Homo sapiens: one gene and its partners. The protein of the gene in region 2 interacts with the protein of the main gene of each other region in a pairwise test. Each region holds a gene or a part of one and is shown on either strand. Other genes may lie near its edges. The genes, in order: SLC7A14, MMGT1, ITGAM and PLPP6.

Region 1 (7,607 bases), on a different chromosome or scaffold from region 2:
CAGTCCTTCCAGTATGACCTCCCACCAGCCAGATAAGGTCAGCCTGCACTTGTATCATTTCTGTTCACACCTTCAGCATTTGCTTATGCTGGTCCCATTTCTACAATAGCTTTCTCTCTCATTTATCCACCTGAAAAAATATTATATACCATTCAAGATACTGTTCAATTATAATTTCCTCTGTGGAAGTGAATTGTTTCCTGGTCTCTCCTTGGAGGCTCCCTCATAATATGTTATAGCATGTGTCATGTTGCATACATAATTAGTGGGGATTACATCTGTGGAACTTTCAGATTACTGGTGACTTGAGGCAGGGATTATGTCTCATATCCAGTGCCTAGCTAGGCCCATGCTTGTCATAAAACAAGTGAATATTACAATGTTTCTTCAATAAATTGCAAAGATAGTCATTTTAGAATCATGATTTACTGATTTTGCATCCCTAAATGCCAACCTTTAGGCCAGCTCTCACATTATAGGCATATTAACCTGCTGGGAATCTTTGCCCCTGCAGAGGTTGGAGGAGGCTTTTTGTAGGAGCTTCTGGGGGCTAATTTTAAAACCACTGATCTCTGACCCCATTGTTTTACTTATTGGTAAACTTACTGGAAGTCTGGTCATACTTCTGAACAATAACTACTACAGACCTCACATGAGCATGGCTGGATTTCACCTGTGGGTGGAGATGAAAAGTAAACGCTCTCTGTCTGCATCAATTGGAGAATTAGGGACCAGGAACAGCACATTACTTAGAGCGGTATTTTTCAGTGGGGGTGGAGTGCTATTGGCATTTTGGACAGGACATTTTTTATTCTGCAGGATTTTTCTGTCTAATGCAGGATATTTAACATTCTAGATCCCAGTCCACCAAAAGTCAGTAGTAACTCCCCTCTCCTCCAGTATCTGTGACAATATAAAATACCCCTTATTGAGGTGACATTGCCTCAGGTTGAGGACCATTAATTTGGAAGAAACCAGGAGGCCTCTCCTATTGTAAGTGCCATTTTCTAGATTTACAAATTTAAATCCAAGCTCTTCTTAACCTTGAAGACATTGATTTAGCTGTCAACCCTGGTTCAGAATTGGGTATCAACAGCTTGAGAGTAATTTCTGGCTGGGAAAGACTGAAAGGATGGAAAACCCATCTCTTTCCTCTGGACTAACTCTATGGTTAACAAGGAGCTTTAATTAATGCCATCTCACTGGCCCTATTTGTAATGTGAGGGGCAAGATCTATTACCCCTATTTTAAAGGTAAGGAAGTTCAGTCTTGAAGTAGTGAATGGTGCTGGCCCAAGTGTCACAGGTAGTACATTTCAAAGCTGAGTCTGGAAAGCAGATCTTCTGACTCCTAGGCCATCCCGCTCCCCACAGAGTATCTAGAAAACCACAGAGGAGGCCGGGCGCGGTGGCTCACGCCTGTAATCCCAGCACTTTGGGAGGCCGAGGCGGGTGGATCATGAGGTCAGGAGATCGAGACCATCCTGGCTAACAAGGTGAAACCCCGTCTCTACTAAAAATACAAAAACTTAGCCGGGCGCGGTGGCGGGCGCCTGTAGTCCCAGCTACTCGGGAGGCTGAGGCAGGAGAATGGCGTGAACCCGGGAAGCAGAGCTTGCAGTGAGCCGAGATTGCGCCACTGCAGTCCGCAGTCCGGCCTGGGCGACAGAGCGAGACTCCGTCTCAAAAAAAAAAAAAAAAAAAAAAAAGAAAACCACAGAGGAAGAAGTAGAGTTATGTATTCCGTAATTGGCCTTGGTGTTGATGGGATATGTAGCTAGTTTAACAAGCCAGAAACTAGAGCTAAAGAATAAACATGTATATTTGACTACTGTCAGAGCATTCTCAGCTGGTTAGATATACCATATTAAGAGCTAAATGCCCATTTGTATATTCAGTACATTGAAATACACAGTGAAACAGATGGGTACTGTGGTGTATTGTATTTATGACTAATTTGTTAACATAGGATTAATGAGAAGAAAACGATTTTCACAACATGATTTTGAAAGTTTTAGTCTTAGCCTTGACCCAAGCCTACCTCCAGGAAATGACACTCTGGGAGCTCTCCCTCTCTACTGTAAAAGCTGTCTAGATTGTTACACTGAGTCAAAAACCTAAAGGCAGAAGCTAGAAGACTCTACTGAACAGTAAAGATGTGGTGGGCTGACCTTTATAGCATTAGAAGGTGCTGGATTGATCCTGCACCAGCATCCATCTATTTCTGGTGGTGTGGCTGGCCACACATTCTGGGAAGAGGCAGAAGAGTGGTCCTCACCACATGCAGCCACCTGCACAGCACCAACATTCAATGCTGAATCACGTAAACAATTGGTCAATGACATCAATTGCAAAAGCACAAGAGCCATCTTACAGAAAGACAATGTAGATTCCCACACACAGGACTGAAGTTCTATTCACCATCTTGGTTGCTCTTCTAGTAAAAAATTGAGCTAAAATAGAAATTCTCCAGAGAATTGGCTGGTGTGTCAAGTGGCTATAAATGGCACACATCAGCTATCTATCTGTCAGATTTGTGGTTTTTATAGAGGCGGTGTAGCATGGTAGCACAAACTTGTTACCTGTGTCAAATTGGGCAGGTAATTTAACTACTTTAGTATCCAGGTTTCTCATCTGTAAAATGGCGATGATAGCATTACCAACCTTATAAAGTCATAGTAATTGTATATAAGTATTAGCTATCATTATCATTATTGTTTCCAGGTAAGGTACTAGCATGAAATTCAGAACTTCTGATAAATAATGATGTAAAAATAAGAATCTTGATTTATGTTTAATTCTTCGGTCTTAAGGAGGCAAATAATGGATTATTCAAGCTCTTGGCCCTATTTCATCGAACCATAGAATGTTATGGCTTGCAGGATATTGTACACTATTTAATCTAAATAACTTCTTTTAGGGATGAAGATTAAAAAGTAAGAAGAGTTAAATCCTTGCCTAAGTTCTTGCAACATGGATGATGCTGAGGTTTTGAATCTTTTTCTATGGCTTATAGTTCCACCCCTGAAATTTCTACCTGCTGACCATCCTTGACCAGTAGTTCTTTCACCTGGAGGTACAAAGGGAAATAATCTGAAATCCAAACACATACTCTTTCCTACTCCCTGAATCTTTGAGAAAAGATAAACCTGAATCTTTGATAAACTCATAGACTAAACAAGTTTTCATGACTAATGAAATGATGCATGATGTTAAAAAATGCAGAGTGGGTTCTATAATTGCCTGAGAGAGAGAAGACTCAAGTCATATTCCTCTGACATCAACTCAGGTGAGTGTTCCCAGCATCAATTTCTCTCTAAAGTGAGAGAGTTCAGTTATGTGATTGTTATAAAATATTGACATAATAATATGTTGTATAATCTCTAACAAACAATTAAGCCTTTCCATTTCTGAAGACCATTTTGTCAACAGAATGTTTAAACACCTGGGTGCAATTGTTTCTTATTTACTGATTATTTTTCAAAAACATGGAAAAATTTTTTTAAAATGAAGAGAAAATGAGAACCAGCTTGATCATTTGTTGTTCATTGGGTTGGAATATTTTGCCTTTGGCAAATAAGAATCAGTTAATTCTAGGCGTTTCCTTATTGACTTGCTAGAATAGAATGAGCTGTTTTTCTTTCATTTTTGTCAGTAATCACCAGTTAAAACCGTTAAAGGGAAGCCTTATTATTCCTGGAAAAGGATAATATTCTGTAAACCATCAGACTGCAATGTCGCTAGTTCTCCTCTAATTAATATATGTGCTTTCATTCTAAGCTAAGCTTCTTCTGAATTTAGGAACAATAGCAATTGCCTGCTGCTATCATGAAGGCCAGCCAAATACTTTCTGAAGGAAATGACAGGTATCTCTTCAAGATAAGAGTGGAAAAGAACACACAACTCCATTTAAGCTTTGAGTTTCTGAAGTTGCCTCATCACAGTGAAATGCAAGGCCCTTGGGCTGATTTGTGCTTTGTTTTCTGGGTGAAGCAGCAAGACACGGTTCTCAGGAGTAGTCTATCTTGGCCATCACTATTTATGCCCCGAGAAGGGCTAGAAGTGTGGTTATTAGGGTAAGATTTGATATACTGTGTTTGCCTCCTGTTTTATTTGCTAAAGGAAAATGCCATAGGGAATACTGAATTCTTGGTAGAGATAGACGAGTGTATGGCATGAATTAACCTGGAACAATGGTCTGAATTCACCAAATATTTATTGATCATCCATGTGTTCCAAACATCCTTAACCACAACATTTTTGTGTCAAAATAGGACATTCTTCAACTATGTTATTGATTAAATGGATGATTGTATGCTATTAGGATTTGTTTCAAAGCTACATTGTCAGTTCTCTTTATCTCTTGGGATCTACAATTAGAGAAATCCTTTAAGCTACAGACAGAGAAGAACTCTTTTCAGCTCCAAGGTAATGGCATTTTCCCCTTTCCAAAATCCAGGTCTTTCCAAGAGGTAAACAAGTCCAATGAAGTGAATAAATCATGACGCCCAACAACATATGTTTATTGTTAAAGCTAGCATCATCTACTAGAGGCCAGAGTTAACAGCTTCGCTTATTTTTCCTTCAGTAATATAGTCCCATATGCAACAAAGGCTTGAGGACAGCAGGCTTGACCAGAAACAGTGGCTAAGTGTATATCTCAACTATTTACCTGGCAGAGCATCTTACAAGGTAGCATCTATACCTTTGTTAACTCTAAACAAAGGTAAACTAGATCTCTGGAACTGGAGATAAAACCTCATGCCCTTGGTCATACTCAGCTTGATTCTCAGGTGCTTTGTTAATGAATGAATGAATAAATAAAGTGACTTCGTTGAGTTTTCAAGATGATAAAACCTAATAAATACAGTGAAGAAACATCTGATGGAATAGCTTTGTTTCCAGGCTTATTTTCTACAATATCTGAGCACTGTGTTAATCTTTGTGTTATAAGAGAAAAATATTTAAGTATCAAAATCGTGAGCCACTATAGAAGGTATGGCTGCATCTGAAAAGCAGTTTTACTTGACGCATAAATAGCATACACAGATCAAAGTGCGGGAGTAGGTCATAGATGCCAGGTTTGGGAGTAAATGTTAGCCAGATGCATAAGGTTCTCCTAATGACCCCAACAGATTTCAACTTAGAGAATGAATAAAGACTTGTTATTTAAGGTTAGAATCCCTAATGCAAACTCAATAATTCAGTCAAGTTAATGACCTTCACTTTTGTTTTGGTTTAATCAATGCATGAAATAGAATTATTCTTGTTCTGATTGATCTATGAGAATGGATAGAAGCTCATTTCAATTTGTAATTAGTAAAAATATGTTTTGAAAATTATCCCTCTCACCCCCTCACACTGAGGAATATCCATAATGCTTGTATTTTGTTATTTCTGAACCCCTATTACCATGATGGGTTCATTATTGATGATTACTTAAAAACTATTAGTTAAAAGGTAAAAGCTGTTCCAAACAACTTAGATTTCCTAGTTATTATTTTTTTTAATCCTGAGAAGAAAATGTTCAGGACCAAATAAACTAAACAACAAACAATGCACGGTATTTCAATTAATAGAATCTAACCAATCAGAAATTTCAATAACTAAATTTTTTCTTCACCGTTCCACTTTTCAGTGAAATAAATGACCACAAAGGCAAAAATACAGTCATATCAGATTAAAATCATTCAGAAATGCATTCAGCCTGAACTACCCTATTTGTACATTGTACCATATCTATATAAAATAATAAACCATTGCAGATTCAATCATGCTCCTTACAAAGTACTTTCGTATACCTACACTTTGAGTTTTACAATAGTCCTTTGAGATAGTTATGGCAATTCTCATCAACATCTTAGAGATGGAGAAATGGAGCTCTAGAGGGCCTCATAATGTCACCAAGTAGTATGTGACACCTGTACTACTGACTCCAAGTCTTATATTCTTTCCATGTCTATCATACTATGATTACTAAGACAAGATAAACACACACACATGTTATTACATATACATGTAATCTATAAACTTGGATTTTGAATTGGAACTTTCAGATTGTATCTAAGTCAAAATTCATGAAACCAGCAAACCTCATTCATGGAATATTTTACTTTATAGTAACATAGAATTCATATGAAGCAAACTCCAGAGGCTACCAGCTCCTTAAGTAAGACATGCACACTCCTTCATAGCCTAATTGTCCTAGGTATCTTTGGGCTACTGGTGATGTATTAGGCATAAGTGGCTTTTTCTTTCTTTCTTGGCAGAAGATTCAAAGAAGAGTAGGTCCTTACTTCTTCCCAGTTCCTAGTTCTTGGTTGCTGTGAGGGTGTGTTTAGTACTGTCTAAAGCAGCATTTTTCAACACAACTTTCTTAAATGATAAAAATTTTCTGATATCTGCCCTGTCCAACACAGTTGTCATTAGCCATATAGAGTTATTGAGCACTTGAAATATGACTAGTGTGACTGGGGGGCTAAATTTTTAATTTTAAAAAGTTTAATTAAAATTTAATTATAAATAGTTACATGTGGCTAGCAACTACCATGTTGGACAGAGCAGTTCTAGACAGTTTAAGGTTCTGGTTCACAGGGCCCAGAGCACCTCAGCAATAGCATTCTTGACAGATCACCTAGTGAAGGTACAATAGAAGTTATGTATTTAATTACAAATTATACCTTAATTGGCTCTAGAGAAGGTTTGAAGCAGAATGTTGACATTATCAATAAGAAGCCATATGGGAATTTTTAAATAAGAGATAACAAATGGGGAGAATATGTTTGGTAAATATTAAGAGATGAGAGAGCAAAACAGTGTCATTTGAACTGAATTTGAATTTCTAAATGCTATGTTTTGGAGCAGGATGGAACTATCAATTAAATACAAAAATCCAATTGATGAAGATGAGACTTTACTATGAGCTGGAAAGAGAAGAAAGAGGAAATGAACAGAACATCAGGTTCTGCTGTATGTTAGAGCGAACTAGAATCCTAGGACCATCTTTAGTGGAGCCACCTACTTGACAGAATTGTGATAATTCAGTAAAATGATTGATGAAATAACTTCACATAGTGCCTCACATATGATAAGCATTTCATAGATATTAGCACTTATAATGATCTTTATTTATAAAAATCCTTAGGTCTTATTAGGGCCTTTTCCCAGTCCCTATGAGAACATGGGCAGTTGCTTAGGGTAACCAATTTTGGGAAAATTATTTTTTGGGGAATAGGTCATAGAAGAGGAGATATAGACAAGATAGGGCAAGTAAAGAAATGACACACTACCATTCCCATTTGTGAATTGCTGCTTCAGAGAAAACTGTTACTGAGGAAGGTGGGTCATATCTCCCAGGTATGTTGGGTTAGACAACACTGGAATAGTAGGACCAGAGGGGAAAGAGCTGGAAGACAAAGGAGTTGGAAGAAAGGTAAGAGGAATGCTTGTATGTTAAGTGTTTGTATTTTTGGCATGTTGTTTAATTTAGTTCACTGATGCTGACGTTTAGTCAAAGATAATCAAAGAAAGCAGTATGGAAGAGTATTTCAGACACCATGAAATAGTGGGAAAGGCCCTGGGCCTGGAATCAAGTTAACTGGGTTCTAA
Region 2 (7,704 bases):
TAATCCCAGCACTTTGGGAGGCCAAGGCAGGCGGATCATGAGGTCAGGAGATCGAGACCATCGTGGCTAACACGGTGAAACCCTGTCTCTACTAAAAATACAAAAAATTAGCCGGGCATGGTGGTGGGCACCTGTAGTCCCAGCTACTCGGGAGGCTGTGGCAGGAGAATGGTGTGAACCTGGGAGGCGGAGCTTGCAGTGAGCTGAGATCAGGCCACTGCACTCCAGCCTGGGTGACAGAGTGAGACTCCGTCTCAAAAGAGAAAAGAAAAGAAAAGAAAAGTGGAGATCAGATTTTATTTCATGTCTGAAAAATTTTACGAAAAACCAGTAAAAAAAAAATTATTACAAGCTATGTGGCTGATTTTAAACATACATGTAACGGAATATAAATGACCAACTTACATCTATTGGCAGTGATTCATCTTCTTTTTCTGTTAATCGCATATAAGAACGATCTATAAACCAGAAGCATACCATTAAGGAAACTGTAGTTCATTTTTCTTTCTTAAAATGAAGCAAATCAATATACCAAAGAAGTGGCTGACTTATGTGCAGCACACCAGCATGGCACATGTATACATATGTAACTAACCTGCACATTGTGCACATGTACCCTAAAACTTAAAGTATAATAATAATAAAATAAAATAAAAAATAAAAAAAGAAGTGGCTGACTTATATGCTACATAAAGTAATGCTAATCCTGGATTCCTCAAAACCTTCTATCTTCTAAGGTAGTCAGCTCTATCTTAGTCAACTATTTTATTTTCATCATGACCTGCTTTGTCACCTTATAAAATGGGTAAGAGTGACAAGTGAGCAAGTATGAGGCAGAAATACCTTAGTATAATTTTTCTTTCATTATTATAGAAATACTAGAAACTTCTCAAAACCGTTACTTTCACTAACTCGCCAAAGAAATCACAATTATTTAAAAAGTAAAGTCTACAGAAAATCTCAACTCTGAAATAGCACCACCACCAACCACACAGTATGGACAAAATAATACTGGTATGGAAATGGTTCTCCTGAGAGGATACGCTGGGGCAGTGGTGGAATAGGAATTCCATGAAATCAATTTCTGCCTCTACTAGTTAATTATAATTCCGCTGCTGCTGCCTTAACCTCAGGAGGCAGCAAGGGATAAAAGAAAAGGATCAGGATTTGGAAACTGGTAAGCCTAAATCAGTGCCAGCTCTTCAATTTACTATAATTTCATTTAATTAAAGAAGCCCGCAGTGATCATAATACATATCTCAAGTTCAGAGTGTTAAAATGGTGGGTGTCTTAGAATCAAAGAAATACAGTATCTATTTTTTTCATTACCTGAATTTCCACAACAGTAAAATGAGAATAATGTGAGGTGAGGATTAAACAAGATACAGTAAATGACTGGTGCCCTACTGTAACAAAGTTCATTACAGCAAAGATGAGCATGCCACAGCACCACATTGTGCTATCTGCTGCTACAGTCTGACATGACACACTTAGTCTTAAAGTTACATATTACTCTCTCCCTAACATGAGCATTATATATAAAGAGGTCTCACTGCAGTGGCAAATCCACAAGGCATTCTCATCACCCAAAACATAAAATACAAAAATCTTAATTCTAGATGAACCTAGGACAATCCCTATTTAATAACGTACTTTGGACTAAATAATTCAAACTGTTTTTGAGTGCATGTGTATTGACTCTTGAAGAAGAATGTGTTTAGAGACATTTCTTAAGTTTTAACCTACAGCTCTGTCATAAAGACAAGTGTAAAAGAAACATCAAACCAACACCAAAAATCGATTTTGACTAATCTCCTATCTGGTTCAATTCCTAGCTAGCTTGCTAGTTTGCATGAAGCCTCGCCTGCTTCTAACACTACCTTTAACCAGGAATTTCCTCATCTGTAAAATGAAGGGGTTGGACTTCAGTGAACTCCAAAGGCCCTTCTCGCCCCACAATCATATAATTCTACAGTTAAAGCTTACTGTAGAAAATGACACAGTACTCCAGTGTATCCTAATCTCTTCCAGGACAGTGTTTCTCAAACTAATGCGCATACAAATCACCCTGGGATCTTATTAAAACCCAGATTCTGATTGAACAGGTCTGGCCTGAGTATCTTCTAATTACCTGCCAGGTGGTGCTCATGATGCTGGTCTGTTGATCACACTGTAAGCAGCAAGGATCTAGGATACTTTCCTTAACCTCCCAGTTCCCCCAAAATATGACTGTCCCTGCTTCCATGCATCCTTATATACTTTTAGCATATCACTTTATTGTAACTACTTCTTGATCCACTTGTTTTCCTTTAGACTTTGAACTGGCTCAGGGCATCACTGTATCTCTAGCACCTAAACACAGCGCAATTTCAAACAGCGACCCAAAACTGAATTTCATAACGCAGTGTAGCACAAATCTTTTGCCCAACGTCACACAGATGTAGCGGTAATGCAAGTTTTTAACAACCAGTCCTTTAGACTCCCAGTCCAGTGCTCTTTCTCCTGTACCACAGTGCCTCCCTGAGGCAATCGGTCACTTAACTACTCAGTCTCTGCCTGGACAGCCCAAGAGTGCCCAAGATGTTGTCCACTTGGTTGTCGTGGGACCATGAGCAACCAGAGTCCTCAATCTCACAACTGTGCCTGATCTGCCCCATGCTGGATCTGACATCACTTGTCCTGGATTCCTGGAGACTCCTATTCTGAACCCTCTCCCAGACACCTCCTTCCAACCTTCCTGCAATTTCAGGTGCCACACTCTCTCCAAATTCAAACTCCGAACCTTCCACTGGGAACTCCTGCACTGATTTTCTTAGTCACCCCAAACTGTAAGGTCTCAAAGGACCATTAATCTGACACTCGGTCCGATGGTCCCTTAGAAGTGCGCCCACACACCGCCCCTAGGGTTCCACACCGAAGCGGTCCCCGTGCCCCAGGCACTTACGCTGCGCAGCGGAAAAGGCGGCGTGGGCTAGGGCAAAGAGACCGATGCCCACCAGCCCCTTCCACAGCGACGGCGCCATGATGCCGAAGGAGCAGCAGCCCAGCAAAAGAAGCGAAGGACGGCGGAGCTGTTTCTTCTTCCACCGGCGGGTGTCCGCGCGCCGCAGAAAGATGACGTCACTGAAGTCCTGAGCGCAAAGTGTCTCAGTGGTGGAAAAGCCAGAGGGCTGTGAGAAAACGGAAACAGGAATGCCGGGAAGAAGCAGAAAGCTACACGGAAAAAGGTCCGCGAGAACCCACGAACCTGCGCTATGGAGGCCTCTCTAGGAGGGCCGGAGCCCAACGGAGTCATAAACGAAGAGGCGAAAGCGGGAGCTACGGGGAAGCGAAGAGGAAGGGCGCCGGCAAATGGGGGCAGGGCCAGTGGCGAGAACAGGGTGGGGCAGAGGGACGGGGGCCTGCGTAGAGAACGTGTGGGGGCGAGGGGCGGGGTAGGCAGACGGGCGGGGTGGGGAAGACGCGCGGGGCCCGCACGAGGGTGGGTGTAGCCGAGGGGCGGGGCCAGTGGGTGGGTGGGTGGGCGTAGCCGGGGGGGGGGGGCCCTGGTGGGTGCGGTCGAGTGGCGGGGCCTGCGGGGAGGATGGGTGGGGCCGAGGGGCGGGGAGGAGGTGGGGCCGAGGGGCGGGGAGGAGGTGGGGCCGAGGGGCGGGGAGGAGGTGGGGCCGAGGGCGGGGCCTACGGGAGGATGGGTGGGGCGTAGGGGGCGGGGCGGAGGGGACGGAGAGTGGGTGAGGGCCGAGGGGGCGGGGAGGAGGTGGGACCGAGGGGCGGGGAGGAGGTGGGACCGAGGGGGCGCGGAGGAGTGGGACCGAGGGGGCGGGGAGGAGGTGGGGCCGAGGGGCGGGAGGAGGTGGGGCCGAGGGGCGGGGCTGGGGGCGTTGGGGAAAGGCGGTAGGTGCTGGATATAGACCCCTGACAGTTGTGTTTTGTGGGTTGGTTGGTTTTGGCTTTTTGTGAAACTGTGCCTTTTGTTTTCTGTAGGCCTTTCCTGTGCTTCAGCTCCCTGGAAACTGGCACTGCAGAAGGAGGCAAGGGTGTTAAAACGAGGAGGCAGTGTCAGGACAAAATCCCAGGATCTGGAACCCCAAATACTTGGCTCGCGGGAAGTGCTCAGTAAACCATTTTAAGGTCCTGGAGAAAGATTCGCGCAAAAAGAGGTGTAGCGCGGGGGGAGTGTTTTGTCGTGAAAAGAACCAGCTTACATTAAGGAAGAAATGAAAGAGGAAATTTTAAAATGCTAATAACGCAGCCTTCTTGCCTTGTCTCTATCTCTGATCCGGGTAAAATGTATACTCCTCTGCCCATTTTTCTTTGTCTTCATCTCCTGAAATGTAGACATTTAATAGTGAGCTTCTCCCCTTGACCTCATCACTCTGCTGTCCCCTGGGGAGCTCACCCATTCATTCCCACCGCTTCAGCCAGCAAAGGTATTACAGTGATTCCAAATCGACATCTCTATCACAAATATCTCTCCTTAGCTCCAGGGCTGCATTTCTGACTACCAGATAGGCATTTATTTCCTGTGGCACTTAAAACGTAATATGGCTAAAATGGAATTCATCCTTTTTTTCCAAATTCTGCACCAGTTCCTCCAGTGACCCCTGACTGAGTGGCAAAGCTTTGTAAACTGCATATCACAAGGTAAATGCAAAGTATGATCACCATTCTTTTCCTTTAACCCAATCAGAATTCTACGTTTTAGTTGCATCAATTTGCTTTTGCTCAAAGATGCGTCCTATCCTGACCACCCCTTTTAAATGTGCAAAATTCCTATTCCTGATCCCCTTATTCTGTTCTACTTTTTATATCACCTTCTAACATACTATATAATTTAACTATTTATGTTTGTTGTGTTACTGTTTACTGTCTGTCTTTCCCCACTGGAATGTAAGCTCTGAGAGAACAGAGATTTCTCTGTACCTAAAACTTTGACTGTCATGTGATAAGCATTCAATAAGTGCTTGTTGAATGACAAATGAATTCCGGAAAATAATTGGGACAGTATCCCTATTTGAAAGGATCTCTACAGAGAGTCCTTCCAATCTTTTGAATTGGGCTCAAAAATCCCCATGGACTTGCATGTACTCTCACATTTTGACAACCTTTTGATTGTAAACATTTTCTGATATGCTTGAGCTTCCTCAAAGCTGGAAAAACAAATAAGACATCTCATTAGCTGGGCATAGTAGCACATGCTTGTAGTCCTAGCTACTTGGGAAGCTAAAGAAGGAGGATTGCTTGATCCCAGGAGTTCAAGGCTACAGTGAGCCATGATTATGCCACTGCACTACAGGCTGAGTGACAGAGCGAGACCCTTTCTCTAACCAAAAAAAAAAAAAAAAAAAAGTAGAAGAAGACATCTAAAATTAATCATATTTCCTCAACTTTACTTATATAATTTTTGTCCTGGATCTCATTTTCCAAACCTTTAGTCATGTTCATTATTCTTTTCTGGGCCCTTTCCAATTTCTTCACCTCTAAGCCAGAATTTTACACAATACTTGATGGATGTCAAGTGCAGTATAATGCATTCCTTACAAATGTAGTTCTATTTATACAATCAGGAAGAACCAGGAGATAATCTCTCTGTAGTTGACAGGAAAGTGCTTCCTTCTCCGCCCCTGGGAGGTAATAAGGTAGAAAAGATAGTTGACCAAAAAAATCTTACAACTTTGTTTTGTCTAAAATAATGGTCAGATTGAAATTAGCCTTTTCAGATCCCCTGTAAAATTACCCCTTCTTCCAGACCAGCCTGGCCAACATGGTGAAACCCCATCTCTACTAAAAATACAAAAAATTTGCCGGGCGTGGTGGTGGGCCCCTGTAATTCCAGCTACTCAGGAGGCTGAGGCAGGAGAATCGCTTGAACCCAGGAGGCGGAGGTTGCAGTGAGCCGAGATCACGCCATTGCACTCCAGCCTGGGCAACAAGAGTGAAACTCCATTTCCAAAAAAAAAAAAGAAAAAAGAAAAAAACCCTTTTAATATCAATTTATCTGAAGCAGAAAATGATTAGGAGTTTTCTTATAGGACCTGAGATCTGGTTCTTTTCCTTTAAAAAGATGAAGTTATAGGAAAAAAGAAATTCAATAATGAATCTGGTATTTGTATAAACCACCAATGCATTATCCTAGTCTTCAGGGAGATCACCCATGTCCAGATATTGAGTTTTGTTTTCTCTATTGCCCTCTTAAGATGCATTTCTCACTCTTTTTTTACCTCTTTACCCATATACTGAATGCAAGAGAAACTAGCCTCGTTTCACATTTTCTAGTAATACATGGTTAAATTATGTTCAGGGAGTGAGATTTTAATTGTCTTTTCTGTAGATTCCAACCTGAAGGGAAGCCAAGGTATTCATAGTCACAGTTACCAAGGACTGTATCATTCAAATAAGTACCTTGGGTTCACTCATACATGGTTCTTTAAGTTGCAGTTAATCCCAAAGGTGCAAGGTACAGCTAGTGGTAGCACTGTTTTCATGAGCTCTTAGAACAAAAGTCAAACCTCATGAGAAAGTGCATTTAAATTCCTAAGTGACCCCAGAAGTGCTGTTTGTTTTTCCAAAGAAAGAGCCATTTTCCATATGCACCTTGGATAAATGATGTGGATGTTATTAAAGATGGGGATAATGGTCTCTAAAGCGTTTCCTACTGAGATGTTATTTGTGAAGACTTATCACGTTTCCCAGGCTAGTTCACTGAATAGAGAAAGCACTGCTATCCCAGACTCATCTTCAAGCTAATTGACTTATTACATGCCACCCAGCTCCACGAGTATCTTCACACACTGCTTATCCACGTCTCCATTTTCCATGCAGATTCTCCCTCGATCTGGCACACTGTTCTTTCCCACCTGGTTCAAAATTCCACTTTCCTTAGGAATATGCTCCTGACTATTATAGATATTTATGAGATATATACCTATTGTAGGCACAAAACCTTTCTTTGAGCTATTTATATTTCGTACAACCTCTCTGGGTAACACATTCTAGAAGTTTACTACCTGCCGAGTAAACTAGTACTTTCAATATTGAAATCGCATCCTGTTTACTTTTTTTTTTTCATTACCAAAGTGGTATGAGCTCATTGTAAGAAATTCAAACAATAAAAAAAAGTATTTGTCTTGAAGCATTAAGTGGTACCTTGGTATTTTAAGTTTTGAATCTGAGTAAACAGTACTGTGGTTACATGATTCATATCTTTAAGATTTGTTTACTTGCTGGATGATCTACACTACAGTGGTTAAAAGCATATGCTCTGGAATAGTTTTGGGTTTGAATCCTTGCTTTTCCTTTTCTACCTCTGAGAGATTGGAGAAGTTACTTAACTTCACTGCGCCTCAGTTTTCTCATCTGTGAAATGAGGATAATAATAGTGTTTACCTGCCTAGGTTGTTATCAGCATTGAGTGAGATCATACATATAAAGTGATTAGAATAGTCTTACACATAGTAAACACTAAGTAAATGTCAGCCATTGTTGTTGTTGCTATTGACCCTTCTAGCTATTTTTGTAAGCTAAAGAGGTTCCTTACCTTTTTAGTCTTTCCTAAAACATCAATTGCTTCTCTCTTTTGACTATTTTAATTGCTCTTCTCTGGACCATTTCCAGATCTACTAATATCTCTCTTAGGGTTTCATTACCACATGTGCACAAAGTATCCTAGGTTACTTGTGTGAGGTTAATATGATTATTCATTTC
Region 3 (7,732 bases), on a different chromosome or scaffold from region 2:
GCAGGAGAATCGATTGAACCCAGGAGGCAGAAGTCGCAGTGAGCCAAGATCATGCCACTGCACTCCAGCCTGGGCGACAGAGGGAGTCTCTAAAAAAATAAAATAAAATAAATTATAGCATCTCCCAATTATGGCATGCAATGCAAGCATAACATGGGATTAATGGACTCAAATCACTGGGCTGTATTATGGGAGATAAAGCAAAGAGCAGAGACCAGCCCCCTTCTTCTGGAAAGGTACTATCACCTCCACAATTACTGTTTCTGTAAAGGTAAATGTTTTAGGCTTCAGGGTCCATACAATCTCTATCACAGCTCCTGAATTCTGCCATTACAGCTCAAAAGTGGCCATAGCCAGGCACAGTGGTTTACACCTATCATCCCAGCAAGTTGGGAGGCCCAAGCAAGAGGATGACTTGAGGCCAGGAGTTTGAGACCAGATTGGGCAACAGAGTGAGACCTCGTCTATACAAAAAAAATCAAAAAATTAGCCAGGTGTGGTGGCACATGCCTGTAGTCCCAGCTACTCAGGAGGCTAAGGTGGGAGGATTGCTTGAGCCCAGGAGTTTGAGTCTACAGTGAGCTATGATTTCACCTGTGCACTCCAGGCTGAATGACAGAACAAGACCATGTCAGAAAGGAAAGAAAGAAATGAAGGAAGGAAGGAAGGAAGGAAGGAAGGAAGGAAGGAAGGAAGGAAGGAAGGAAGGAAGGAAGGATGGAAGGGAGGGAAGGGAGGGAAGGAGGGAAAGAGGGAAGCAGGGAATGAGAGAGGGAGGAAGGAAGGAAGGAAAGAAGGAAGGAAGGAAGGAAGGGAGGAAGGGAGGGAAGGGCAATAAACAGTAAGAGACAAGTGGACGGAGTTGTTTTCAATAAAATTCATTCACAAAAATAGGCGGCAGCCTGCAGGCAGGCCTTAATTTCAGTACAATGTATACTACACATGGTGTGTTGGCTGAGGGAGGGAACGTGTATGTGTTATGCACACACAGAGTCTCCCCGAAGGAACACCCAGGAAACCATTTGTGAGGTCCCTCCTGGGAAGGGAACTAGGGGAAGGGAGTAAGGAAGAGATTTTTACTCTTACACCCTTTTGCATCTTTTGAATTTAGAATACTGTAAATTCAAAAGATGAATTTGTTGTATATTTTGAATTGATTTATCTGTTGAAAAAGATCACTCAAATCGCTGATTTTTTTCAGGTATGTAAGTCTTGGAGAGAAAGCACTGAGAAAGGGGGCTCCATCTAAGGGTCTCACCTGGATCCCTGAAGCTGGACCACGCTCTGCCCGAAGCCCCTTGCGTTCTCTTGGAAGGTCATTGCGTTTTCAGTGTCCAAGTTGAACCCATGACATAAGGTCAAGGCTAAAGGGAGAATGGGGGAAGGATCAAGCAGAGGAAAGTAGCATGCCAGTTAGGGGCTGTAGTCCTAGCACTTTGGAGGGCTGAGGCAGGAGGATCACTTGAGCCCTGATTGTGCCACTGCACTCCAGCCTGAGCAACAGAGAGAGATCCTATCTCAAAATTAAATACAAAAAAAAAACAAAAACTAATAATAATTTAAAAGAAAGCAATGGCTGGGTGTGGTGGCTCAGGCCTGTTATCCCAATAATTTAAGAGGCTGACGTGGGAGGATCACCTGGGCTCAGGAGTTTAAGACCAGCCTAGGCAACACAGTGAGACCCCATCTCTACAAAAAATAAAAAATTAGCCGGGTGTAGTGGTACTCAGGAGGCTGAGGTGGGAGGATTGCTTGAACCCAGGAGGTCAAGGCTGCAGTGAACCATGATCATGCCACTGCACTACAGCCTGGGCAACAGAGAAAGACCCTGTATCAAAAAAAAAAAAAAAAAAAAAAGATAGCAGCATGTCTTCCTGCTCCATTCCCTTTCCCATCCATTCGGTCACCCTAACTAACCCAGCATCCAGATGTCTGCCTCCCAGGTCCAGCTCTGTTAGCCTGGGGCGGGGATTAGCACACTTATTCTGTAAACAGCCAGATAGTAAATTTTAGGTTTTGCAGACCAAGAGGCTGATAGAATATGTTGTACAAGTACTTATATAACAAGACAGAAAATACTTTTCCACAAATTTGTCATTAGGGAAATTTCAAACATAATGATTGAGTACAATTTGTTTGTAATACGGGTTTACAAATGAGACAAATAGAATTCTTTGGGGGTGGTGCTCCCTATCATCAAATCGATTATCAGTGTTCATCTTCAATCTCTAGCTGGCAGGTTGTGCAAAAACAGGTCGTGGGCCATATCGGGCCCCCAGGCCACTGTTTGCTGACTCCTGACCTAAGAACCACCGTCGTGGGGCACGTCCAGTCCTGCTCTGAATTCCAGCCTCCCTTCTGAGCACCTAAATGGCTTCTTCCCCCGGTGTCACAACGATGATTTGCCCAACAGTGAAGTTTCTATACATTCTTAATTAGATAATTTCCTTCCTATGCAGCTCTCAAGTATTTCCTTCCCTTTTGAGGAGAATTTCATTTTCCACAACATATAAGCATAAAAGGTAACAAACTCAAATCATTTTCATTCATCAGTCATTCAACAAACATTTGCACCCGGGACCTTGGAAAATAGAACCGGAGGCAAAGTGGAGATGGTGAGAGGGGATCCAGGAGGAAGCACTCAGGAAAGGGGTCTCACACCTGCTGCGCACCCTGAGCCATGTCACTTCTCCTCCCTGGGCCTCCGTCTCCTCATGTGTGAAGCAAGGGGACCGGCAAGCAGCCTTGCACAGTCCATGAATGTGGTCATTCATCCAGGCTTCCCTGGCCAGCCTGTCTGGGTCTAGCTGTTCTCCCTGCTTCTTCTTGAACCCTTTCTCCTTCCCCAAATCCCCTTTGCCTCTCCCCAGACTGACTCCTACATATTCTGGGCCCTCTATTTATGACAGACCCAAAAGTTACCCTCCTCCCCACCCAGAGTCCCCCACCCCACCCCCATGCACCTGTTAACAGAAGGACTCTGAGAGCCATGGCTGGAAGGAGCCAGAACCTGGAAGGAGGTGAACCAGGGGTTGCAGGCACCACTGAGGAACCACAAGGAAGCCACCAAAGCAAAGAAGGGCAGAAAAGGAGAAGTAGGAGGCAGAAGTCTATCAGAGATTCAAAGGAAGAGGGCGGAGGCTCAGTGAGCACATAGCCCTGCCTGGTCTTCCGCCCAGGACTGCCCACAGCCTGCCCACCCTTCCTCCCCAGCTTCCTGACCCAAACTTTCAAAGTCAATACCACTATCCAAAAGGTGCCATTTGTCACCCACTTGTTTCTTGGGTTGGCCCAAGCATATGAACAAGCTGAACAGACTTAGCCTGCCTCCTGGAATTCGTGTTCTAAACATTAATACGGGCCAGGCGCAGTGGCTCACGCCTGTAATGCCAGCACTTTGGGAGGCCAAGGCAGGAGGATTGCTTGAGCCTGGGAGTTTGAAACCAGCCTGGGCAACATAGAGAGACCCTGTCTCTACAAAAAAATATTTTTAATTAGCTGGGCATGGTGGTGCGCGCCTGTAGCCCCTGCTACTGGACAGGCTGAGGTGTGAGAATTACTTGAGCCCGAGGTCCAGGCTGCAGTGAGCTAGGATCACACCACTGCACTCCAGCCTGGGCAACATAGGGAGACCCCGACTCTACAAAAAAATACATTTAAAAAATTAGCCAGGCATGGTGGCACATGCCTGTAGTCCTAGCTACTCCAGAGGCTGAGGCAGGAGGATTGTTTGAGCTCAGGAGTCTGAGACTGCAATGAGCCTCAATAATGCCACTGCACTCCAGCCCAGGTGACAGAGTGAGACTCTGTCTCAAAAAAAAAATTAAATAAATAAATAAGCAAACATTAATACAGATCAAACAAGTGTAGGAGGTAAAACTCTGTGTCTTCCTGAAAACACACTTTGCAAAATGTCCCTCCTTCAGCCCATGGAAATGGAAGCGCCCTTCAGCCAGAGCTGTCCTCATTTGTAGCCATCAACAAAGACAACTCAAGTACAGGCATACCTGGTGCTTTTTAAATATTATTTTGTGCTTTTTTTAGAGACAGAGTCTAGCTCTGTTGCCCAGGCTGGAGTGCAGTGGTGTAATCACAGCTCACTGCAGCTTCAATCAACCTCCTGGGCTCAAGCGATCCTCCTACCTCAGCCTTCCGAGTAGCTGGTACTACAGGCACATGCTGCCATGGCCAGCTAATTTTTTTTAAATTTTTTGTAGAGACAAGATCTTGCTATGTTGTTCAGGCTATTCTCAACCTCCTGGACTCAAGTGATCCTCCTTCCTCAGCCTCCCAAACTGCTGAGATTACAGGTGTGAGCCACTGCATCCAGCCTATTTTTGTGTGTGTGTGTGTGTGTGTGTGTAAAGGCCTCAAGCTCTTCACCCAAGAATTTTCACTTCTAGTAATTTATCCTAAGAATAGTTAAGAAGTGTAGTCAAAAATATATGTACAAACTTGGCTGGGTGCGGTGGCTCATGCCTGTAATCCTAGCATTTTGGGAGGCTGAGGCGGGGTGGCTCACTTGAGGTCAGCAATTGAAACCAGCCTGCCCAACATGGTGAAACCTCATCTTTACTAAAAAGACAAAAAAATTAGCCAGGCGTGGTGGCAGGCACCTGTAATCCCACCTGGGAGGCTGAGGCAGCAGAATCACTTGAACCCTGGAGGCGGAGGTTGCAGTGAGCAGAGATTGTGCCACTGCACTCCAGCCTAGGCGACAGAGCAAGACTCTTATCTCTAAAAAAAAAAAAATATATATATATATATATATTTGCAAGCTTGTTCATTGCAGCATTATTGTTAATATGAAAAGCTAAAAAAACCTGAATATTCAACAGAGGAATGGTTCAATGATACTTCACTCTGTGATATATCCTTACCCTCCCCTGTGTCTGTCACTTTTAATTCTGTTTTCAAAGGCACAGGAAAATAGGTATCCTTCCACACATACATGGAACACAAACCTCACCTTTATGTGACCGCCAATGTGATTCTCAAGCCAATGATTTTTTTCACTCTTTCTCAACACATTTTCTTTTTTTTTTTTTTTTTTTTTTTGTGAAACGGAGTCTCCCTCTGTCGCCCAGGCTGGAGTGCAGTGGCGTGATCTCAGCTCACTGCAACCTCTGCCTCCCGAGTTCAAGTGATTCTCCTGCCTCAGCCTCCCGAGTAGCTGAGAATACAGGTGCTTGCCACCACGCCTGGCTAATTTTTTGTATTTTCAGTAGAGACAGGGTTTCACCATTCAACACATTTTCTTTTGCCTCTAGTTCTACTTTCCCGATAACTAGATGGAAAAAAATGCTTGCTGGCTGAAAAAAAAAAAAGCAATTAAAATTATGTACATTTGGTTAAAAATTATCTGTTTATAATTTTTATATATAGCCAGGTGTGGTGACTCCTGCTTGTAATCTCAGCACATTGGGAGGCCAAGGCAGAGGGATCATTTGAGCTCAGGAACTCAAGACCAGCCTGGGCAACACAGCAAGACCCTGACTCTACAAAAAAATGTTTAAAAATTAGCTGGGCATAGTGATGCACACCTGTGGTCCCAGCTACTCAACAGGCTGAGGTGGGAGGATCGCTTGAGCCAAGGAGGTTGAGGCTGCAGTGAGATATGATTGCACCACTGCACTCCAGCCTGGAAAACAGAGCCAGACCCTGTCTCTAAAATATATATAGGCAGGGCATGTAATATATACAGGCACGCCTGTAATCCCAGCACTTCGGGAGGCTGAGGTGGGAGGATCACCTGAGATTAGGAGTTCAAGACCAGCCTGGCCAACATGGTGAAACCCCATCTCTACTAAAAATACAACAATTAGCCAGGCGTGGTGGCAGGCACCTGTAATCCTAGTTACTTGGGAGGCTGAGGCAGGAGAATCACTTGAACCTGGGAGGTGGAGGTTGCAGTGAGCTGAGATTGCACCATTGCACTCCAGCCTGGGCAATAGAGCTTGACTCAGTTTCAAAAAATAAAAAATTAAAATTAAATAAATAAGTACATACATACAAAAATAAATCATATATATATATATATATATATATATATATATATATATATATATATGCAGGAAAACCAAATGTTAATAGTCGTTATCTCCAAGATAGGAGGATTACAGGTATGTTCCAGTATCTATTGCTGCAGAGCGAGCTACTCCAAAACTTCATAGTTAAAAACAGCAGCATATTATAATCTCTCGCGTATCTGTGAATCTCCTGGCCTCAGCAGTTCTCAGCGGGGTCTCTCACATGATTGCAGTCGGATCACAACCAGGGCTAGAGTAATCCAAAGCTCAGTTGGGCTGGGCTCCCAAAATGGGTCACTCCCACAGCTGGCAGTTGGCCGTGGGCTAGGAGCTCAGTTGGGGCTGTCACCTGGGCACCCCCACGTGCCCTCTCCATGTGGCTTGGGCTTCTCGCAGCATGGTGGCTGGACTTCAAGAGCAAGTGTTCCAACAGACAGGAAGCAGAAATTTCCAGGCTACTAAGGTCTTGATCTGGAAACTGGCGCCAAGTCATCTGCACCACATTCCATTGATCAGGCAGTCACAGAGCTCATCCACATTCAAGCAAAGGGGACACAGATCCCACCTCCCAATGGGAGGAATTTGTGGTTGTATTCAATCTGCTACAAGATGACTTTAATATTCTTTTCTATATCATTTGTACTTAAAATATTTATATAGGCTGGGTGCAGTGGCTCATGCCTGTGATCCCAATGCTGTGGGAGGCCAAGGCAAGAGGATCACTTGAGCCCAGGAGTTTGAGGCTACAGTGAGCTATGACCTCAACACTGCACTCCAGCCTGGGCAACAGAGCAAGACCATGTCTCAAAGAGAAAAAAAAAAAAGACCTTTATACAAAAAAAAGACTCATAATCATAAAAAATACCAATAGATAATTTAAAACAACAGGTTACCTGTATTTGTTAGCAGGTAAAGAAGCTGAGGAAAGGACGAACGAAGTCATGAGCCCAAGATGAGAAGATACCAACCAGGGTGCCCGGGGAGGAGTTTAGTAGATCAGCTGGGTTTGCTTTGGGAAAAGTTTTCACACTCTGGCCACTATGGGGGCTGCTCGAACTCAGACGTGGAGGCCCCTCCTTGCCCTGAACAGTGGCCAAGGGTCCACTCTCTGTAAAAACATAGGCAAGATCTCAGACTGGCTGTCCAACCTGCAGAGGCTTTCTCAATGAGCCACCACCAAGTGTGCACCTGACCTGGTGACCGTGGGTGGGGACATATCTATAAGCTGTTGGCTGTTCCCTCCTACCTGTCCCCCATCCCCACTCTTGATAAAATCTTAGCTTGATTTCCCCTATAAGTGGACTCTGAGACAAGGCTTCAAGTGTAAGTAATTTATCTGGAAGGTGATTCCGGAAACACTGGTGGGAAAGTGAGGAAAAGAAGGAGCTAATGCCAGGCACAATGGCTCACTGCCTGTAATACCAGCACTTTGGGAGTCCAGAGTGGGAGGATCGCTTGAGCCCAGGAGTTCAAGACCAACCTGGGCAACATAGGAAGATTCTGTCTCTTAAAAAAAATTTTTTTTTAATTATCTAGTGTGGTGGTATGCACATGTAGTCCCAGCTACTCAGGAAGCTGAGGCAGGAGGATCACTTGCACCCAAGGGGTCGAGGTTGCAGTGAGCTATGATCATGCCACCATACACTGTACTCTAGCCTGGGCAACATAATAAGACCCCGTCTCTTAAATTTTTTTAATTAAAT
Region 4 (7,878 bases), on a different chromosome or scaffold from region 2:
TTGGCAAATGGTGTGGTTTCATCATACATGTGGGTGTGAAAGGTGATCAACATTTCCTGGATTTGTCCCACTTTGCTGACAGCAAATAGGGCTAGACCTTATTAGTAGTGCTATACCAGTTTTAAGCTCTAAAAATTGTGCAGGAAGAAGGAACTCTTGAGAAGCTAAGTGATAAATCTGTCTCCCTCCTCATCAAGGCAAAAATTAAGCAAGTTTTCATCTCACTTCATTCACCATTATTTGTTAATTTTATTTTGATTTTTAAAAGGCATTATTCAGTGTACAATTAACAAAGAAATCAGTTTTCTACTCTACTGTACTTAGGATGCTTCAAAAACATCAGGTGAAATGATCTATGCTTTAAGAGCCAGAAAACTCAGGCCTCAGCAACTAAAACAGAGAATTCCAAAATTGTAATTACAAATCAGATGGTAAGCCTAATTTCATGCCCCTAATATTCAGATTTGTGGACACTGCAAGAGGAAATATCATTTGCTTCCAAATATCTGGCTTGAATATTGCTGCAGTTAAAGGATCTCGCTAAGGTTAAACAACAAACCCAAACCACTTAGAGCTTCACAGTTTAGCTGCTTTAGCAAGTGAAGAGGTAGTCGGTATTCAGGATGCTGTGGGAATGCAAATGATTTGATTTTGAGGCATGGCTGTTCCTTTTTCACTATGCCCCTCACTCTGAACAAGCTCATGCTTTCACTCAATCAAAACCTACTTATCACAGCCGTTCTCCAGGTTCCGAACCTCCGTATGGCAGATCAAAGTCCATAATCATTTCTATTTATAAATGCCAAAATAGTCATTAAGATTATCTGAGGACATCACTTCCATAGGTAATTTAAAGGATTTCTTTTCAGGTAGAGCAGCACTTAAAGCACATACCTTCTCCAGTCTTTCTGGGTCAAAGAATAATGAGCAGAGTCCACCCTGCGTTTGGTGGTCTTTGGTCTTATGATTTGGGGAGGCACCATGGATGAACAGCTTTAAATGTAAAGGTCAATGTAAACAGAAATTTTGGAGTTTTATCTTGTGCCTGGTATAGCAGCAGACTCCCATGATGAATTTCAAGTTAAATACTGTTACCTAAAATGTGCTGTACCTCAGAAAACGGAATTCCATGTGAAAAACTGTAGCATACAGGTATATACGAGAAAGCTTATGTTCTTGCATTGAGAAGACGTTCCTTTTCCCCACTTTATTACCCTGAAAGAGGAGCATTATTCTTTATTCAGTGGAGATGACTGGCAGCAGGGCCCCATCTCCTGTCATACTGGTCACTGGCATAATATGTGGTCAGCCTATTCCCAAACTTTCAGTTCCTCTAACTTTCCCCAGCAACTTAGTTTCTCTGCCCTCTCTCATGCCATGTTACGTTGTAAACAAAAATAAGCATGGGGCCATGTCCCATTCTTCCTCTTCTATGAGCATCTTAGATATGCCTACCTTTTAAGTGATTCCTCTTTAAGCAAGTTGGCTTTTTCTCTGAATGCTAAAAGACAGTAAGGGAGTAGTGGGAAATGCATAAAGATCTTTTGAGGGATGGAGGGAGAGGAGAGAAAGACAAGTATTATAATCTCTTTTCCCACTACCCGATCCACAAATATGGATAGAGATAATAAATTATAGAGATAATAAAGTAAAAAAGCTTACCAAGAAAATCAGGATTAAGAAGAAATCTCCCAACTGTGGCAACAGATCTTCAGGGAATAAACTAGAAAAACCTATGTCTTGGACTTTAAAAATACTGTTTAAAATCTACCTCAGGAAAAGGACTAGGATTAGTACATGACCTGTCTGCATGTATATTTACAGAATGAACATCATGTTTCTTTCTCGAAGTTCAGTTTACAAGTGGTATGTTGATTTAGGGATTATCACAAAACACAAATCTTACTGATACCAACTTTTAACAGCAACAGTATAACCACCTCAGCTTGTTTTCTTTGCAGTTGTCCTGGAAACATAAACAGTTGTTGAATAAATATACAATAGAGGATTTTTTGGGTTTTTTTGCTTTCCCTAATATGGCTGTGTTCAGTAATGGCCAGTGTGTGCTCCAGCCTAGCAGCACATCAAGATCATGGGACACCTGAAATCCCAAAGGAAGCCTGAAATGCCTAAGAGGGACAAGCGGGATGGCTGCTGGTTTAGGTTGACATCATCGAATGTGGAAACCTTCAGACTTCCTGGTGCCATAATCAATGAGATGGTGTCATCGTTGACTCCACAGTAAAAAGAGGACCGGAGCATTATGGGGTGAGAGCCAGCAATAGTCCACGATGCTGTACTGCATGTAGCCCAGAAAAAAGCCAAAAGCTACGTCGGTGACATTGTGCCGCCCCAGCATGACCCTGGATAGGCCCAAGACGAAGGCCCACAGAACCACCAGCACCCTCAGTGGAATGGCCAGCACCAGGTGGTTCAGGATGAACCTCGACATCAGGGCGGCCCTTGTGGCATGGCCCGAGGGGAAGGAGTACTTGTCCACCGAGAGAGTGACAAACATGTCCATCTGGTTGTGGGCCGGGCGGCGCCTGCGGACCAGCCCTTTGATCAAGGCCACCAGCAGCAGGTCCAACAGCAGGGCGAAGAGCAGGTTCATCAGCACCTCGCGCCCGGCCCAGCTGTCGCTCCTGCACAGGCAGTAGAGGGTGCCCAGCAGCCAGGGGATGCCGTGTCCCGAGATCTCCAGCAGCTTCATAAGGGGTCGCACGCTGCCCCACGACGAGCTCTCTCCCGCGCACACCCCCAGCTTCTTGGACAGCCACAGGTCGATGGCCAGCAGGGAGCGCAGGGCGATGCCCAGGAAGGACGGGTTCAAGTCCATGCGGTCCTCCTCGGGCAGCGGAGGCGCGGGCGACTGCGAGGGGCCCGCCGCGGCCAGGGGGAAGGAGCCGCGGCGGTGAACTGGGCTCTCCGATGCACGGAGCCGGGCGCAGGTGGGGTCCACGGCCGTGGCGCGGCTGCTGAGCAGGGACTGGAACTCAAACCTGCTGCCGCCGCCACCGCCGCCATGGGCTGGGCTGCCGGGGCTGCTGCTGCTGCTCGAAGCGGAGACGCCCAGCGGCCGTCCCTCCATGCTCCTCCGGGGACTTGGCATCGCAGCTGGCGGCCCGGATCCCGGGACCTGGCCGGACCAAACAGAGGCTTCCCGGCCCTGCAGCCTCTTCCGCTTCCGCACTACCATCCCGGAGGGGCGGGGAGAGGAGCCGGCGAGAGCGCGATTGTGACACCTGGTGGAGACGTGGGAGGGAGTTGGAATTTCCAATGTGAGGAGAGCAGAGGGGAGGATGTTGGCGTTGGGAGGTACAGGTGAGGGAGTGAGGTGATGGGGAAAATGTCAGTGTCTGTAGGAGCTTAAGAGAAATAGAGCCCCGTGTAACAAAACAAAGCAAAGTCTGTTTTCTCTCCCTTGTTTGTTGTTTTCTTTCTTTTTAAGATTTCTTGCCCAGGAGTGTTCCTGCCTGGCAAACAAGATGTGTACCTCGGGGTCTACCTCATGAATCAGTACCTGGAGACCAACAGCTTTCCCTCTGCGTTCCCCATTATGATTCAGGAGAGCATGAGATTTGAAAAGGTGATCTTGACTTTCTCATTGGCTTTTGTTGTCTGAAGATAACCTGAGAGTTCTTATAAAGAACAGAGTTCTTACAGCATTATTTGGTAAATTTCATTTTTAAAAAAATTATCCGAAAGCACTTCAGCACAATGCAAAACCGCAGTCGGAACACTTGCTTTTGTAATGCAGGTCTGAGCCAAGTTCTGTCAATCTAGTGCTAAATACCCTGGTTGATGTTTCCTATTCTTGGAACTCCCATGGCATTTTTTTAACTGGAGCAAAGAGAGCATTTCTGAATGTTTTTGGAGGTGTTAGAGGTAATTGCATTACATTTACGAAAGGGATTATTAATAAACTGTGGACCTTAGAAAAAACTGTGTTAGACCAAGAAAAATAGCGAAAAAAAAATAATGAAATTAGTTAAATCCTGTAACTAAAATCCTGTAACAAAAAGGCTGTTCAGATTTACTGTTTCCTCAGATCATACCTAGATTATTTAGCTACAGTGATAAAGGCTAGATTCCATTCTGGTGAATAACATGGTGATATAAATAGTCAAAACATTACCAGCCTTCTTCACACTAAACTATTCATAGAATATTGATGTTATTACTATGTCATCACTGACAATCTCTTAACATTTTTGTTTTGGAATTTGGAGATGGAATCAATTTTAACCTTAATAAGTCTAATGATTTTGCCCCAAACAATGTCATTGAGGGAGATCTGGGGAGAAGGAAGGCTACAGAGTAGAGCATGTCACATTTTTTTAAAAAAATTATACTTTAAGTTCTAGGGTACATATGCACAACGTGCTGGTTTGTTATATATGTATACATGTGCCATGTTGGTGTGCTGCACCCATTAACTCATTCCCCCCACCCCACGACAGGCCCCTGTGTGTGATGTTCCCCACCCTGTGTCCAAGTGTTGTCATTGTTCAATTCCCACCTATCAGTGAGAACATGCGGTGTTTGGTTTTCTGTCCTTGTGATAGTTTGCTGAGAATGATGGTTTCCAGCTTCATCCATGTCCCTACAAAGGACACGAACTCATCCTTTTTTATGGCTGCATAGTATTCCACGGTGTATATGTGCCACATTTTCTTAATCCAGTCTATCACTGATGGACATTTGGGTTGGTTCCAAGTCTTTGCTATTGTGAATAGTGCTGCAATAAACATACGTGTGCATGTGTCTTTATAGTAGCATGATTTATAATCCTTTGGGTATATACCCAGTAATGGGATGGCTGGGTCAAATGGTATTTCTAGTTCTAGATCCTTGAGGAATCACCACACTGTCTTCCACATGGGTTGAACTAGTTTACTGTCCCACCAACAGTGTAAAGGTGTTCCTGTTTCTCCACATTCTCTCCAGCACCTGTTGTTTCCTGACTTTTTAATGATCGCCATTCTAACTGTGTGAGATGGTATCTCATTGTGGTTTTGATTTGTATTTCTCTGATGACCAGTGATGATGAGTATTTTTTCATGTGTCTGTTGGCTGTGTAAATGTCTTCTTTTGAGAAGTGTCTGTTCATGTCCTTCACCCACTTTTTGATGGGGTTTTTTGATTTTTTCTTGTAAATTTGTTTAAGTTCTTTGTAGATTCTGGATATTAACCCTTTTGTCAGATGAGTAGATTGCAAAAATTTCCTCCCTTTCTGTAGGTTGCCTGTTCACTCTAATGGTAGTTTCTTTTGCTGTGCAGAAGCTCTTTAGTTTAATTAGATCCCATTTGTCAATTTTGGCTTTTGTTGCCATTGCTTTTGGTGTTTTAGTCATGAAGTCCTTGCCCATGCATATGTCCTGAATGGTATTGCTTAGGTTTTCTTCTAGGGTTTTTATGGTTTTAGGTCTAACATTTAAGTCTTTAATCCATCTTGAATTAATTTTTGTATAAGGTGTAAGGAAAGGATCCAGTTTCAGCTTTCTACATATGGTTAGCCAGTTTTCCCAGCACCATTTATTAAATAGGGAATCCTTTCCCCATTTCTTGTTTTTGTCAGGTTTGTCAAATATCAGATGGTTGTGGATGTGTGGTATTATTTCTGAGGGCCTCTGTTCTGTTCCATTGGTCTGTATCTCTGTTTTGGTACCAGTACTGTGCTGTTTTGGTTACTGTAGCCTTGTAGTATAGTTTGAAGTCAGGTAGCGTGATGCTTCCAGCCTTGTTCTTTTGGCTTAGGATTGTCTTGGCAATGCGGGCTCTTTTTTGGTTCCATATGAACTTTAAAGTAGTTTTTTCCAATTCTGTGAAGAAAGTCATTGGTAGCTTGATGGGGATGGCATTGAGTCTATAAATTACCCTGGGCAGTATGGCCATTTTCACGATATTGATTATTCCTATCCATGAGCATGGAATCTTCTTCCGTTTGTTTGTGTCCTCTTTTTTATTTTGTTGATCAGTGGTTTGTAGTTCTCCTTGAAGAGGTCCTTCACATCCCTTGTAAGTTGTATTCCTAGATATTTTATTCTCTTTGAAGCAATTGTGAATAGGAGTTCACTCATGATTTCGCTCTCTGTTTGTCTGTTATTGGTGTATAGGAATGCTTGTGATTTTTGCACATTGATTTTGTATCCTGAGACTTGAGCATGTCACTTTTAAAGGTCTGGAAAGTGATGCCCAGAAAGTGACCTATCTGTTTCAACCTGAGGTTGACAGTGGAGATGAAGATCAATTTTCTGAAGGGCTAAGGTTGTATGTAACATTTTTATAAATCACAACCTATTAATTTAAATGAAGAATGTACCAAACTGGCTGGATAAGTGAGGAGAGAAATAAATGGCTATTACCTTGGAACATATACTCAGAATCTAAAGGAACTTAGTTCTCCCAGTTAGATGTTAGAAATGGTAAAAAGTTGGTGGTAAAAGTGCAGTCTTTCCCCCATCCCAATAATTTTCTTATTAGTTATATCAATTTTGAATTTGCTCTGTAGAAGCCTTTTTTTTTTTTTTTTTTGGAGACAGAGTGTTGCTCTGTCACCTAGGCTGGAGTGCAGTGGCAAGACCTTGGGGCACTGCACCCTCTGCCTCCCAGGTTCAGGGATCTGCCACCACACCAGGCTAATTTTTGTAGTTTTAGTAGAGACAGGGTTTCACCATGTTGGCCAGGCTGGTCTCAAACTCCTGGCCTCAAATGATCTGCCCGCCTTGGCCTTCCAAAGTGCTGGGATTACAGCATGAGCCACTGCATCTGGCCTGTAAAAGTCTTTAAAAATATTTTTATAAGAAGCCCAAAGATACAAAACTGTAGAAGCACACAACTAGATAACTCCAACCTCCTTGATTTGTCAAAGAGAAGAGTGAGCCTGAGTCACATTTCAGATGCCACTATGGCTCTGTTGAAAAGCTGTACATTTGAGATTACTAGTCAAACAAATCATGGAACCACTTTTTCATTTTATAAAATTCAGTCAATTAATTGTCCTCTTGCATGAGTTGTTTGGGTTCATATTCCTTTCTTCCTGTTGGTTTTAGCTTCCTTGTATCTGTTTCCTTCTCTAGCTGCAACTACTTTCAGCAGGTAGTGAAAAAATTTTCTTTTCCTCGGATCTTCTGTGTAATTCAAAATGGAATTTTCTGAAGCATTTGGGTCAACAAGTTACTCATAAGAATATATAAGTCATTGTTTAAGCAGTTCATGTTGATTATTTACTCCCCAAGATCATACTTGAGAAAATCCTTAGATATGGATATATTAGTTTCCTAGAGCTGCTATACAAAAGTACCACAAATAGAGTGGCTTAAACAACAGAAACATATCATCTCACTGTTCTGGAGGCTACAATTCTTGAAATCAGAGTGTGAGCAGGGACATATTCCTTTTAAAGGCACTAGGGAAGGACCTATTCCAGGCCTCTCTCCTAGTTTCTGGTATAGTTCCTTGGCTTGTGGCAGTGTAATTCCAATATTTACACGGCATTCACTCTGTGTGTGTACTGTTAAAAAAATTGGGGGTGGGGGAAGTCATTAGGCTGGGGCGGCTCCAGTGCTTTAAATTCCTAGGTAAGCAAACTGAAGCCCAATGTAAACAGTAAAACTAGAGTCATTTACCAAACAGATGCCACCAATGAACCTCTAACTAGAGATTTTACCAATAAGAAACTGCCAACTAATCTTTAGCTAGAGACTTTACCTATCAGAAACTGCCAGCTGATCTCTAACTAGGGTCTTTCCACTCCAACAAATTAAATATATTTTCTTTGTCTTATTTTCATGTCAACCTGTAAAAGCCTGCTGCCCATAATGCAGCAGCGGAGGTCTCTGAACCTCTTTTAGTTCTGAGTGCTGCCTAGTTTAT

Evidence for each region.
Region 1: the proteins of MMGT1 (region 2) and SLC7A14 interact in binary tests that used the Homo sapiens proteins (3 or more experiments, as listed by UniProt).
Region 3: the proteins of MMGT1 (region 2) and ITGAM interact in binary tests that used the Homo sapiens proteins (3 or more experiments, as listed by UniProt).
Region 4: the proteins of MMGT1 (region 2) and PLPP6 interact in binary tests that used the Homo sapiens proteins (3 or more experiments, as listed by UniProt).

The regions. Positions count from the first base shown.
Region 1 is NC_000003.12:170,575,941-170,583,547, forward strand, and holds part of SLC7A14 (solute carrier family 7 member 14), read right to left. Parts: intron 1-7,607. UniProt on the Homo sapiens protein: Imports 4-aminobutanoate (GABA) into lysosomes. May act as a GABA sensor that regulates mTORC2-dependent INS signaling and gluconeogenesis. The transport mechanism and substrate selectivity remain to be elucidated.
Region 2 is NC_000023.11:135,970,653-135,978,356, forward strand, and holds the start of MMGT1 (ER membrane protein complex subunit 5), read right to left. Parts: upstream 3,337-7,704; 5' UTR 3,024-3,336; coding exon 2,945-3,023; intron 459-2,944; coding exon 406-458; intron 1-405. UniProt on the Homo sapiens protein: Part of the endoplasmic reticulum membrane protein complex (EMC) that enables the energy-independent insertion into endoplasmic reticulum membranes of newly synthesized membrane proteins.
Region 3 is NC_000016.10:31,255,324-31,263,055, reverse strand, and holds the start of ITGAM (integrin alpha-M isoform 2 precursor), read right to left. Parts: upstream 3,082-7,732; 5' UTR 2,992-3,081; coding exon 2,964-2,991; intron 1,365-2,963; coding exon 1,259-1,364; intron 1-1,258.
Region 4 is NC_000009.12:4,657,610-4,665,487, reverse strand, and holds PLPP6 (polyisoprenoid diphosphate/phosphate phosphohydrolase PLPP6), read right to left. Parts: upstream 3,195-7,878; 5' UTR 3,113-3,194; coding exon 2,225-3,112; 3' UTR 230-2,224; downstream 1-229. Other genes in the region: SPATA6L (spermatogenesis associated 6-like protein), read left to right, coding at 3,452-3,589. UniProt on the Homo sapiens protein: Magnesium-independent polyisoprenoid diphosphatase that catalyzes the sequential dephosphorylation of presqualene, farnesyl, geranyl and geranylgeranyl diphosphates.